Regions from separate parts of the Homo sapiens genome. Here region 2 is linked to region 1. The links come from fine-mapping of genetic effects on gene expression. A gene starts in region 1. The other region holds a variant in brackets. All regions are shown on one strand. Distances are between the middles of the regions. Region 1 holds the start of LXN (latexin). Region 2 has its middle 34 kb from the start of MFSD1.

What was found. PIP is the estimated chance that this variant, and not a neighbour inherited with it, causes the effect.
Region 2: its variant is the best candidate, but not a certain one, in a credible set for the expression of LXN in whole blood (INTERVAL, PIP 0.52).

The regions. Positions count from the first base shown.
Region 1 is chr3:158,670,253-158,675,252 of GRCh38, forward strand. It overlaps LXN (latexin), which reads right to left and starts at 2,396. Exons shown (of 6, transcript NM_020169.4): 1 at 2,098-2,396; 2 at 705-767. The coding sequence starts at 2,226. The region is part of intron 13 of GFM1 (G elongation factor mitochondrial 1); the gene reads left to right. RefSeq lists enhancers at 1,613-2,205, 1,720-1,779, 2,206-2,798, 2,220-2,269, 2,580-2,769.
Region 2 is chr3:158,833,352-158,838,875 of GRCh38, forward strand. No RefSeq gene overlaps it. Among named protein-coding and RNA genes, the nearest start is that of MFSD1, 34 kb to the left of the region's middle. The variant AC/A (reference allele first, on the strand shown) is at 2,105.

The DNA.
Region 1 (5,000 bases):
CCATTACTGAAAGATCTTCATCTGAATGGTGGTATCAGCTGGCATTCTATTGCTTCTGAATATCTAAGAGCACGTTCTTTCTCTAAAAACCCAGTGAAAAATAGAATGAGAAAAGCAGACGTTAAGAAGATGATTGATTGGGGAATAAATTACTTCACTCATTTATATTAGGCATAAGTTCAGACTGCCCTAAGAGTATGTAACTTCTTAAGAAATTCATTTGAACTGAAGTGTATAGTCTTTTTTTGTGTAGTTTGGTAGAAATAATTCATATACCTAGGAATACCCAAAGATAGTAAAGAACTGATCCTTGTAAACTTTGCCCATATGGTCAGTGTTTTTCAGAGGCAGGTATTTCACAACAACTTTTTAAAAAGAGGTAAAACTAATCAATCTTACAGATTTGATCAGCAAAGATGATCTGGAATATTTAGAATTAAATTTGTTTAATAAGAACATTTTGGCTGGGCTTGGTAGCTCATGCTTGTAATCCTAGCACTTTGGGAGGCAGAGGCAGGAGGATCACAAAAATTAGCCAGGTGTAGTGGCATGCACCTGTGGTCCCAGCTATTTGGGGAGGCTGAGGTGGGAAGATGGCCTGAGCCCGGGAAGTTGAGGCTGCAGTGAGCCATGTTCTGCCACTGCACTTCAGCCTGGGTGATAGAGTGAGACCCTGTCTCAAAGAAAAAAGAAATTTAACTTACTTTTTGTATAATTTCTTCAACAGCAAATTTAAGGTGATACTTATGTCCTCTTCCTGGAATATCCTAAAATTAAGAAAATGTAGTGGAGACAAGAAAATATTATAACAACATTATACTTGCATTGTTAGAAGTATGCATCTCATTTGGTTGGAGGGGCTGGCTGAAGGGGAATGGTGAAAGCCTTAGGTCTTGAAAAAGGCATGTCACCATGAATGTAACATCTAATTTAGCAAGTCCCCTATCAAGTTTATTTTGGATGAAAACAAAAGAGTAGGATAAAAGCATACAAATTGGGCACAATTCACTTTCAATCATCAAAAGACTTTATTTAACCCCTGGATCTGTGATCTTAAAGTCTCTACATAAGAAAGTTTGAAACAGCGTTTAATTCTAAAGATGACAATATCACCTTTGAAAAGATTTTTTCATAAAGCTCAGTGTACCCTCCAAATAATGTTCAATGAATGTGAATTTCATTTTGAGGCAGATTACTGCAAAGCAATTGGAGACTTAATACAATTAAGTATTGTTTTTACTTATACATTAGTGAAACTGCAAAATGATTAACAAATTATATAAGACTAAGAAATGGTATTTCACTTTTAAATCAAGATACAGATTGAAAATTTATACCTAATTCTGTTATCTGGTACAGTTTCAAAATAAGATCTACTGTGTCACCTCTAAAAGACTGTTAGCAGTTAAAATTCTGTCAGATAAATAAGGGATAATCTCAAATCCAGTAGATTTTCGTAAAATGAAAACAAACCTCGTTAGTGATTGCTGAGGCCTTAAACATTTAATTCAAGCCTTTAGCAGAGGGTGCACATCATTTAAGGCAGTCATGTGGTAGCGGTGTTTGGGTGGCTAAAGGCCAGCGTCAGCCCACAGTGCTTTTATTCTTTGACTTTGATTGTCAGTTTCTCTTGCTGTTTGTTTCCCCCTTCATTTTGGTCAAAGGGTCTGATAAGGATTTGTCTTAAAATGTAGGCAATAGAGTCTTGGAAGATGGGAGCTTTTGTTGGTCCAGATCAGAGTAGCAGATGAGAAACGTGGCAGCCTTAGTAGTCTTTTGAATGGTTTCTACAGTTTACACTTAAGGAAAGTGCTGCCCCTTACCTAGAGCGTGTTCCCGTTTTCTTGTAACTGTGTGCGTAAAAACTTTGTCTCTGCCTTAAGGTGAAAACAGTCCCGGGCTGTCTCCAGAGACTGGAGTATAGACATTCCCCCAGAAACCTTAATATCTCAAGACCAGATACCAGCAGTGTGTCCTAAAACAGAAGGTGGGTAGGGGGTGGCACGGAGTGTCTGCACCCAAAGGCTGAGACCGCGGGTGAGTGGAGGGAGCGCAATCCTGAAGCCTCTGCTGTCCACCACCCCCTGCTAAACTCACCTCCATGCTGGCTTGTTTGACCTTCTGCACCTCAAACACCCTGTGCGGGGTCCCCTGCTGGTAGTTGATGTAGTTCTGTGCCACCAAGGCCGCCCTGGAGGCTGGGTAGTTGGTCGGCGGGATTTCCATTCCGGATGAGCAGTGACTTCAGGGCTTGGGCTACTCTGGCTTAACGGGACCAGTAGCAGAGCGCCGCCCGTCCTGCTTGCTGCTGGGTCCGGTTGCCGAGGCGGAAAAGTCGCAAGCTCCTTCAGTCAGTCTTCTTCCTCAGCTCCTTCCGACTCCGGAAGCTGCTGTTTGGGCCCAGGCTCCCTGCATCCGAGAGCCCTGGGCTGACTGCTTCTGAGGCCCCGCCCCACTACTGCCTGCAGCGGGCTTCCTTACTCCGCCTGCTGGTTCCTACTGGAGGAGAGGCCAGCATGCTTGTCAGGCACCAGCAGGTGGAGGTGTGGGGAGGGAGTCAGTGGGCTAGGTTCGCTGGGATTGCATCTTTCGTTTCATTAACCTTTATAGAAGTGCAGGGTGGGGCTTTCGCTGATATAGGACATCTCTGAAGACTCTAGTTTCCTGTCCATGGGAAAAAAGTCTGGTTGCTTCGCTTGCATACTGGAGCACAACTTCCTTATACACCGCATGCAGCGTCCCTGGCAGGGCAAGGTACACAGTACTCCAGGTAGTGATTCGATTCCTTCATTTCCCTTCCCCTTATGAGAGTCCAGGAAGAGGCTTGCTCATCCTCAGCTTTTTGTGGGTTTGGACCAGTTCTGCCCAAATCAAAGTATGAGAATCTGCAAACTATAGTATTAAATTGGGAGATTATGTAATTTGGATCAGGAGAAATAAAAAAATGCACCTGTACCCCTCTCCTTTACTAATCTTAAAATGATAAGTTTTGATGTAACGCCATGCTTCCAACTTGAGTCATTTTGAATATTTTACTTCAAGGATTAAAATAAACTTAAAAACTGAACTTATACAAAGCACTCTCTCTGGTATGTGGTCTACCTCATTGCAATGGGCCTATAAACCTGACTTTGTAGAAGTACAGGTTTATCCTTGGTGGTCTTAGGTTAATTGGGCTAGGATAACTTGGAGATTCTACCAAAGTTTGGCCAAGGTCTTCGCTGCCTGGATTGAGACCTTTTTTTCTTTTCTTTTCTTTTTTTTTTTTTTTTTTTTGAGATGGAATTTCACTCTTGTTGCCTAGGCTGGAGTGCAATGGTGCTATCTCGGCTCACTGCAACGTCCGCCTCCTGGGTTCAAGCAGTTCTCCTGCCTCAGCCTCCAGAGTAGCTGGGATTACAGGTGCCCACCACAATGCCCGGCTAGTTTTTTGTATTTTTAGTAGAGACGGGTTTAGGCTAGGCTGGTCTCAAACTCCTGACCTCAGGTGATCCACCCACCTTAGCCTCCCAAAGTGCTGGGATTACAGGCATAAGCCACCATGCCTGGCCAGGACCTTTAACTTGGTAGTAATGCACACACCCAAGACTCTTGAGGTGTATCTCTTTCTGATTATGTAGATTCTGCAGTAAATCTGGATTCTGGACTTTGGCCTCAGTTTCATGCTTATTATTGTCTCCTGGGATTTGGGGGTTCTGATTGACTTTGCCTTTAAATACCATCTGTCTGCTTGCCCATCATCTTGTATCAAATGTCAATGAAACTTTTCTCAGTCTTGTCCGTGTATGAGAAATTTGCTTTGCGAGACACTGTCTTTCACACATGACCTTTTTTTTTTTTTTTTTGGAGACAGAGTTTCGCTCTGTTGCCTAGGCTGCAGTGCAGTGGCGTGATCTCGGCTCACTGCAACCTCCACCTCCCAGGTTCAAGCATTTCTCCTGCCTCAGCCTCCCTAGTATCTGGGACTACAGGTGCACTTCACCACACCTGGCTAATTTTTTTGTATTTTAGTAGAGATGGGGTTTCACCATGTTGAGTTCAGGCAATCCTCCCTCCTCTGCCTCCCAAAGTGTTAGGATTACAGGCATGAGCCACCGTGCCTGGCCTCTCCACGTTTCTTAGTTCAGCATTTGTTAAACCCTGACCCACCCATGGCAATATTTTTGCAAATACAGAATATCAGCCAATTTTCGATGGGGTTGTCAGATACGAACTTACACTGTCTCCTGGGATAAATTTACCAAAGAATTGGTGAAATTTGGGGAACTTTGACATGAAGAAGACTGTTCATTTGAGAGACACTTTAGAAGAACACCAGAAATAAAAAAATAAGACTTTCGGAGAACAGTATTTGTCTTATTTGTCTAAGAGCATTTTAAGTAGAAGACTGCCCATATTTTATTTCCATACTTCAAGGTTTTTTATTAATAACATGGCTTATATTTAAGCTTTTTCCTCTCTCCTTGAAAAGAAAAGATAATTAGCGTTTTACAGTGATAATTTCATATTTGTCTAAAACTGGCTGTAGCTCACCTTTTCCTGTTTCTCATTTTCTTTCATTAAAAATTTGAAAGATGATTCATGAGACTAAGTCATTCTGTCATTATATGTGCAGTCCAGGAATATCTAGTCCAAATAAACAGCCAAAAATGTCTAAGAAAAAAATCATTGTGCTTTAAAAAATGTGTAAAAATTAATGTGGTCAAATGAACTTAAATAGCCTTTATTATTATGTTTATAAGGAGCAAGTTTACGGCCGGGAGCAGTGGCTCACGCCTGTAATCCCAGCACTTTGGGAGGCCAACGCAGGTGGGTCACGAGGTCAAGAGTTCAAGACCAGCCTGGCCAATATGGTGAAACCCCGTCTCTACTTAAAATACAAAAATTAGCCGGGCGTGGCGGCGGGCGCCTGTAATCCCAGCTACTCGGGAGGCTGAGGCAGGGAACTGCTTGAACCCAGGAGGCGGAGGTTGCAGTGAGTGGAGATCATGCCACTGCAC
Region 2 (5,524 bases), 160 kb after region 1:
GGGAGGCTGAGGCGGGCGGATCACAAGGTCAGGAGATCGAGACCATCCCGGCTAAAACGGTGAAACCCCGTCTCTACTAAAAATACAAAAAATTAGCCGGGCGTAGTGGCGGGCGCCTGTAGTCCCAGCTACTTGGGAGGCTGAGGCAGGAGAATGGCGTGAACCCGGGAGGTGGAGCTTGCAGTGAGCCGAGATCCCGCCACTGCACTCCAGCCTGGGCGACAGAGCGAGACTCCGTCTCAAAAAAAAAAAAAAAAAAAAAAAAAAAATGTTTTCCATGACTTCTATTTTTTTTTTAGAATTCTGTGAATTTTAATAGAGATTTGTGCTATGACACCACAATTAGGATGCAGAACAAATAGTTCCTTAATGTTTCAAAGGAAAAATATTATAATTGCCTTTTAAGATAATGTATGTATTCTTTTCATGTGGAAATATTTGAATTATCTTAGAAAGTTCTAGTTTATTTGTCAGCACTTAGATTTTTAAAATGCTTTTTGAGTCTAATGACTAAGTACGTAAGGTTTTATGATCATGCTACTTAGTATGTTTCGTAGACAATTTTTCACCTTTTAACATTTCTGAAATTGGGATGTGTCTTATCTTTGTTCGCATTTCATGATTCAAAGAAGTACAGTAGTGGGGAAAACCAAGCATGATGCTTGTGGCAATGTCATGTTGCTTCCTGAGTAAGATGTTCATGGGCTTCTGGGTCTTCGTGTCTGGCATCATTGACTCCGAGGCTCTTTGCTAGACCTGGCAACTCAGAGATGTGGAAAGCGTGGACCACCTTGCTCAAGGGTCTCATGAATGAGTGGGGAAATAGACAGAGGATCAGTGATTCAGTGACTCTGATACAGCGTGATGAGGGCTGTCAGAGCAATGACAAGACTTAATAAGGTTCAGAGAACCTAGGACACCTGCATGATTTGAAGAGGAGGTGATCTTTGAGCTGCATTGTAAAGGGTGAGTAGGATAGCTCATCTAAAGCTGAGAAGGTGCAGGATGGGAGGGAGGAGGAGAAGACGTCCCAGAGCTAATCCTGAGAGAGGCTGCTGGTGAATGGAAATGAAATGAAAGTGACATGTGGGGAATTTAGTTGTGCAAGGCAGATCACTGAAGTCTGTTTCTTCGATGTTCAGGATTGTGATCATAATCTTTTGAGCTTCTGGAAGATATTAATGCTGGTGATTCTCAAGGTAGGATTTGAATTTTAGAAAGGTGACCCTTTAAGCAGTAGGAATGGAATGGATTGGGGGTTGAGGGGAACAAATTTGGAGGCAGGAGAATGGTTAATAGGTTGGAGCATTGAAGCTGGAGACATGATGGGCCTTGAATTAAGGCAGTGGTAGTGAAGATGGAAAGGAGGGACAGGTGCTTATGGTGCTTGGGAGGTTGAACTGACAGGTGGTCATTTGCTGGATGTGAGGTCGGGGAGAGGCCAGAGTTAAGGACGACTCCCAGACTCCTGCCTAGGGTGGACATTGGTGCCATTCAGCCATCAAGACCGCAGGTGAGAAGGTGCAGGGTTGGGAGGAAAATGAGTTTAGTTTTGGCATTGCGGAGCTTGCGGTGCCCGAGATTTGTATGAACAGGAACATGGGTTCAAAATGTGAGAGAGGATTGCTCTGGGGTGTGATTTGGGAGCCATCGGGGAGTCAGTGAGATTGCTCAGAAAGAATGTGGGATAAGATAAGAGGGCCAAGGACAGAGTCCTGGGTCACATCCACTCACCCGGTGTGAGCAGGGAGAGATGCAGTCTATGGAAGCTAAAGAGGTTTTAAGAGGGAGTGAGTGGGCCGGGCGTGGTGGCTCATGCCTGTAAACCCAGCACTTTGGGAGGCCGAGGCGGGTGGATCACCTGAGGTCAGGAGTTTGAGACCAGCCTGGCCAATATGGTGAAACCCCATCTCTACTAAAAATACAAAAATTAGCTGGGCGTGGTAGCGAGCGCCTGTCATCCCAGCTACTCGGGAGGCTGAGGCAGGAGAATTGCTTGAACCCGGGAGGTGGAGGTTGCAGTGAGCCAAGATTGTGCCATTGCACTGCAGCCTGGGTGACAAGAGTGAAACTCCGTCTCAAAAACAAACAAACAAACAAACAA[AC/A]AAACGGAGTGAGTGACAGTGTCAAATGCCAAGAAAGGTAGAGAGGATAGGGGCTGACAGTGTCTGTTTAACTTGTAACTGGGAAGTCATTAGTTTTTTTTGAGAGGAATTTCAGTGGACTGAGGTGGCGGGGTAGGCAGCAGCCAGGGTATAATGATTTGGAGTATGAATTCAAGGTAGAAATTACAGTAAAAATTGTAGCCTGCCCTTGCAAGAAACTAGGCTATAAAAGAAGAGAGTGTAAGAAGGTCTTCAGAGGCTGCTGCTTTGACTGTCGGGTTAATGCTTTATAAAGTCCTCTTTATTAATGTGTTTTTCTACTTGCAGAGTAGAACATTCTCAGACTCTGCGATTCTTTAATTTTCCTGAAGTGGCACTCTTTGCTTTTTGTTCATGATTTAACCACTATAAAAATGCCCAGCTACAGCTTGCTGCAAGAACATAAGTTTGGCTTCTTATCATGGAATTCTTTTTGAGGCCATTACCTTTGAAGTTGTTTGATACGTTAACAAAAAAAATCCTCAACAAAACAAAAAGTTGGGAAGTACAAATACTAAAGAGATTTAGCTTGTTTATAGGAAAGTAAAAGATAATGAGACTATGTAACTTTATAAGCTCAGGTTATGCTTAATTGCAAGCAATTAAAAACTTTCCCCTTTTTATTGCCTTTGAAATATGGGATAAAAGGAAAAAGTGAGAATGCTTGCAGGTTGTGTATCCTGGGACTGCTTTGAATTGAAGTCGGTGGGTGTTAGAACAAATAAATCCCAAAGAACTTGTGATTTAGTTTTATAGGCACACATTCATAAATTGGATTTTTCAGTAATTCCAGAAAAGCACACACAGGAGAAGCATTTGTTATGTATTCATTTATTCCTCAGTGTTTTAGTGAGCACCCATATGCTCAAGCCTCTGCTAGATCTCGGGGTGAGGGAGATAAAAGGATTTAAATAATGCCCCTCATACTTTGCAGAAGGGGAGATGTGCTAAGAGAGGTGTGGAGGATGTTCAGAGAAGAGAGGGCCTTCTGATGAGTGATCCAGGGAGGCTTCTCGGAAGAGGTGGCATTTGAGCTGTTTGCTGAGAGACAGACAACTGTTACAACTGTTCATTCTCTTTGACTAGTTTGTTTCATGTTAACACCCTTGACTTCTCTGTGTCTTGACCCTGTTTACTTACTTGATTTTCTGATGCTCTGTTATCCGAGAGCAACTCCTGTCCTCCACTCTGTCATGCTTTCTATGATTCCTGTGTATCCTAGGTCCTCTGTTCTTTTTCTTCACTTCTCTCTCAGAGATACCATTTTCTGATTCAGCTCTGTATATTTGCCCACCCAGTTGGCCCCAAACCCAGAGCTTGAGATTCGGTTCTCTCTCAACCTCCACCCTGCATTTCCAACTTGAGGTCTCACTAGCAGCTAACAGTAGCTTGTCTAAATCTGAGCTCTCCCTAACAGCACACAGTCCCCTCCCTCCCTTCCTCCCTTGCCCACCCACTGAGTGCTAGGTGCTAGTTGATCATTCTTCTGATTCCCGTGGCTCAGAGTCTCAGAGTAGTTTTTGTTATGTCTCCCTACCAGCCGTGTTTAATCCTTTTATTTCTGTTTTTTCCAATACGTTTAAAAATTTTAGTTCTCCTTATGCCACCTTAGCCTGCCTGTTAAATGCATTCTTGGATCCCTGCAGTGGTCTTCTAAATATTGATCATCTTTCTTTTCATGATTGACATCACCTGTGCCCACTGTCTACCACACTTGCAATGTTGCTGGGATACCATGTTCTATGGGTTGAAAAATGGAGTTGTGAGGGAGATAAAACAGACCTGAAATGATAAAGGAGCCCATGTCAACTTCAAGGCAATAAGCCCCATGGGAGAGTCAGCAGTGCAGAGGTCTGAGGCAATTGGAGGATGCCAAGCCCATGGCCTGTGGAAGGTGGGAACGTAGGCATTTGGAGAAGGCTTTGTCAGGGATTATAAAGAGGTAGATGACAGGCCCGTGGCAAATGTGAGAGAGGTGGGAAGCCACAGGGTGTGGTGAGAGAGCCATGAGTTGAAGAGTTCAGCTGGGACTAGACTGTGACATGGCTAGCATGTCAGCGTGAGGGAGCTGGGCTTTATTCTGTGGAAGTGAAGATACAGGGGAGAGTGGACAATTGGGGAGGATGGGATGTATGGAAAATACTGTTCTAAAGAAAATCTGGAGATGCTGTGAAGGGAAGGGAGGTCAATATGGAGACTTTGAAGGAGTCTAAGCTGTGACATTTTCTTTAATTCATTCAAAACATGGGGGAGCTGCCAGATTAAGTTTCTAAATCATGACTTTGATCATACTGCACTTCTGCTGAAATGCCGTTGGTGATTCCTCCTGGCATGAGAAGTGGTTCTTTCACTGGCATTAGGGGGGCTTCATCATCACATGTCAGCCTGCCCTTCCAGCATTGTCTCCAACTCCTCACCTTCAGGAACCAACCAATGACTTTCACACAAATTAAATTTGCTCACAGTGATCTCTCTTTCCATTTTCTCCACTGCTTGGGACATTCTCCTGGTTGAAATTTCTCCCAGCCTTCAGTGTACTCATAGGCTCTTCATGGCTCTCTCAGCCTGAGTGCTCTCAGTCCCCTTTGAAACTCCTCTAACGCTTACTGCCTGTATTATTCATTTTGATAATCAACAACTGACATAATTTCTTCTGTAGCTGCTTAAGCTGTTAGTACCCATATTGTTGTTTGTATGTTTTTATATTTTGCTTCTCCAACAGTCTATAACTTCCTTAAGGGTTGGGATTGTGTTTGACACTTTTGTAGCTTGCTATAGCCATCATATTTTCATCCAATATGAAAATACTAGCTCCAGTGACTGTATTTTGAACATCATAGTATTTGCTGACCTTCGGTTCTGTTTTAACCTGTCCAAACAATCAGGAAGATTAGGGAAGATTCTGAGGGCCCCAGGGGGATAACGGATTTGAGGATCCCAACTTTCCCCAGGGTGGAGGGCATTGAATGGGTAAATTCAGGAAGGACATTTTTTTCCCCTGGTTTTCTTATCCCCTTTTATAGGTGAGTTTTCTCTAATCACAAAGGAAGTGATGAATATCGTCTTGCCTCAGGTTCCACAGTGGATTCCTAGTTCTACTTACAATGGGGTCCTTTTCCTGAAGGGAATAGCCTAGTTTGATCCTAGTCTCTTGAGATAATTGTCCCTGAAAACCCAGGATATGATGTCAACTCAGTTAAACTTTTTTGATCCTAACTGTCCAGAAATAAGTTAAAAATGGATGTTTATACTTTGCTGTTAAGTAGGTCAAAAAACTGCAGAGCAATTTAGCCTTATATGGATCAGAGAAATAATTGCAAGCACATAGGTTAACAAGAAATTAAAGGCAGGAAATCTTTGGCTAGGAGTGTAATGTACTT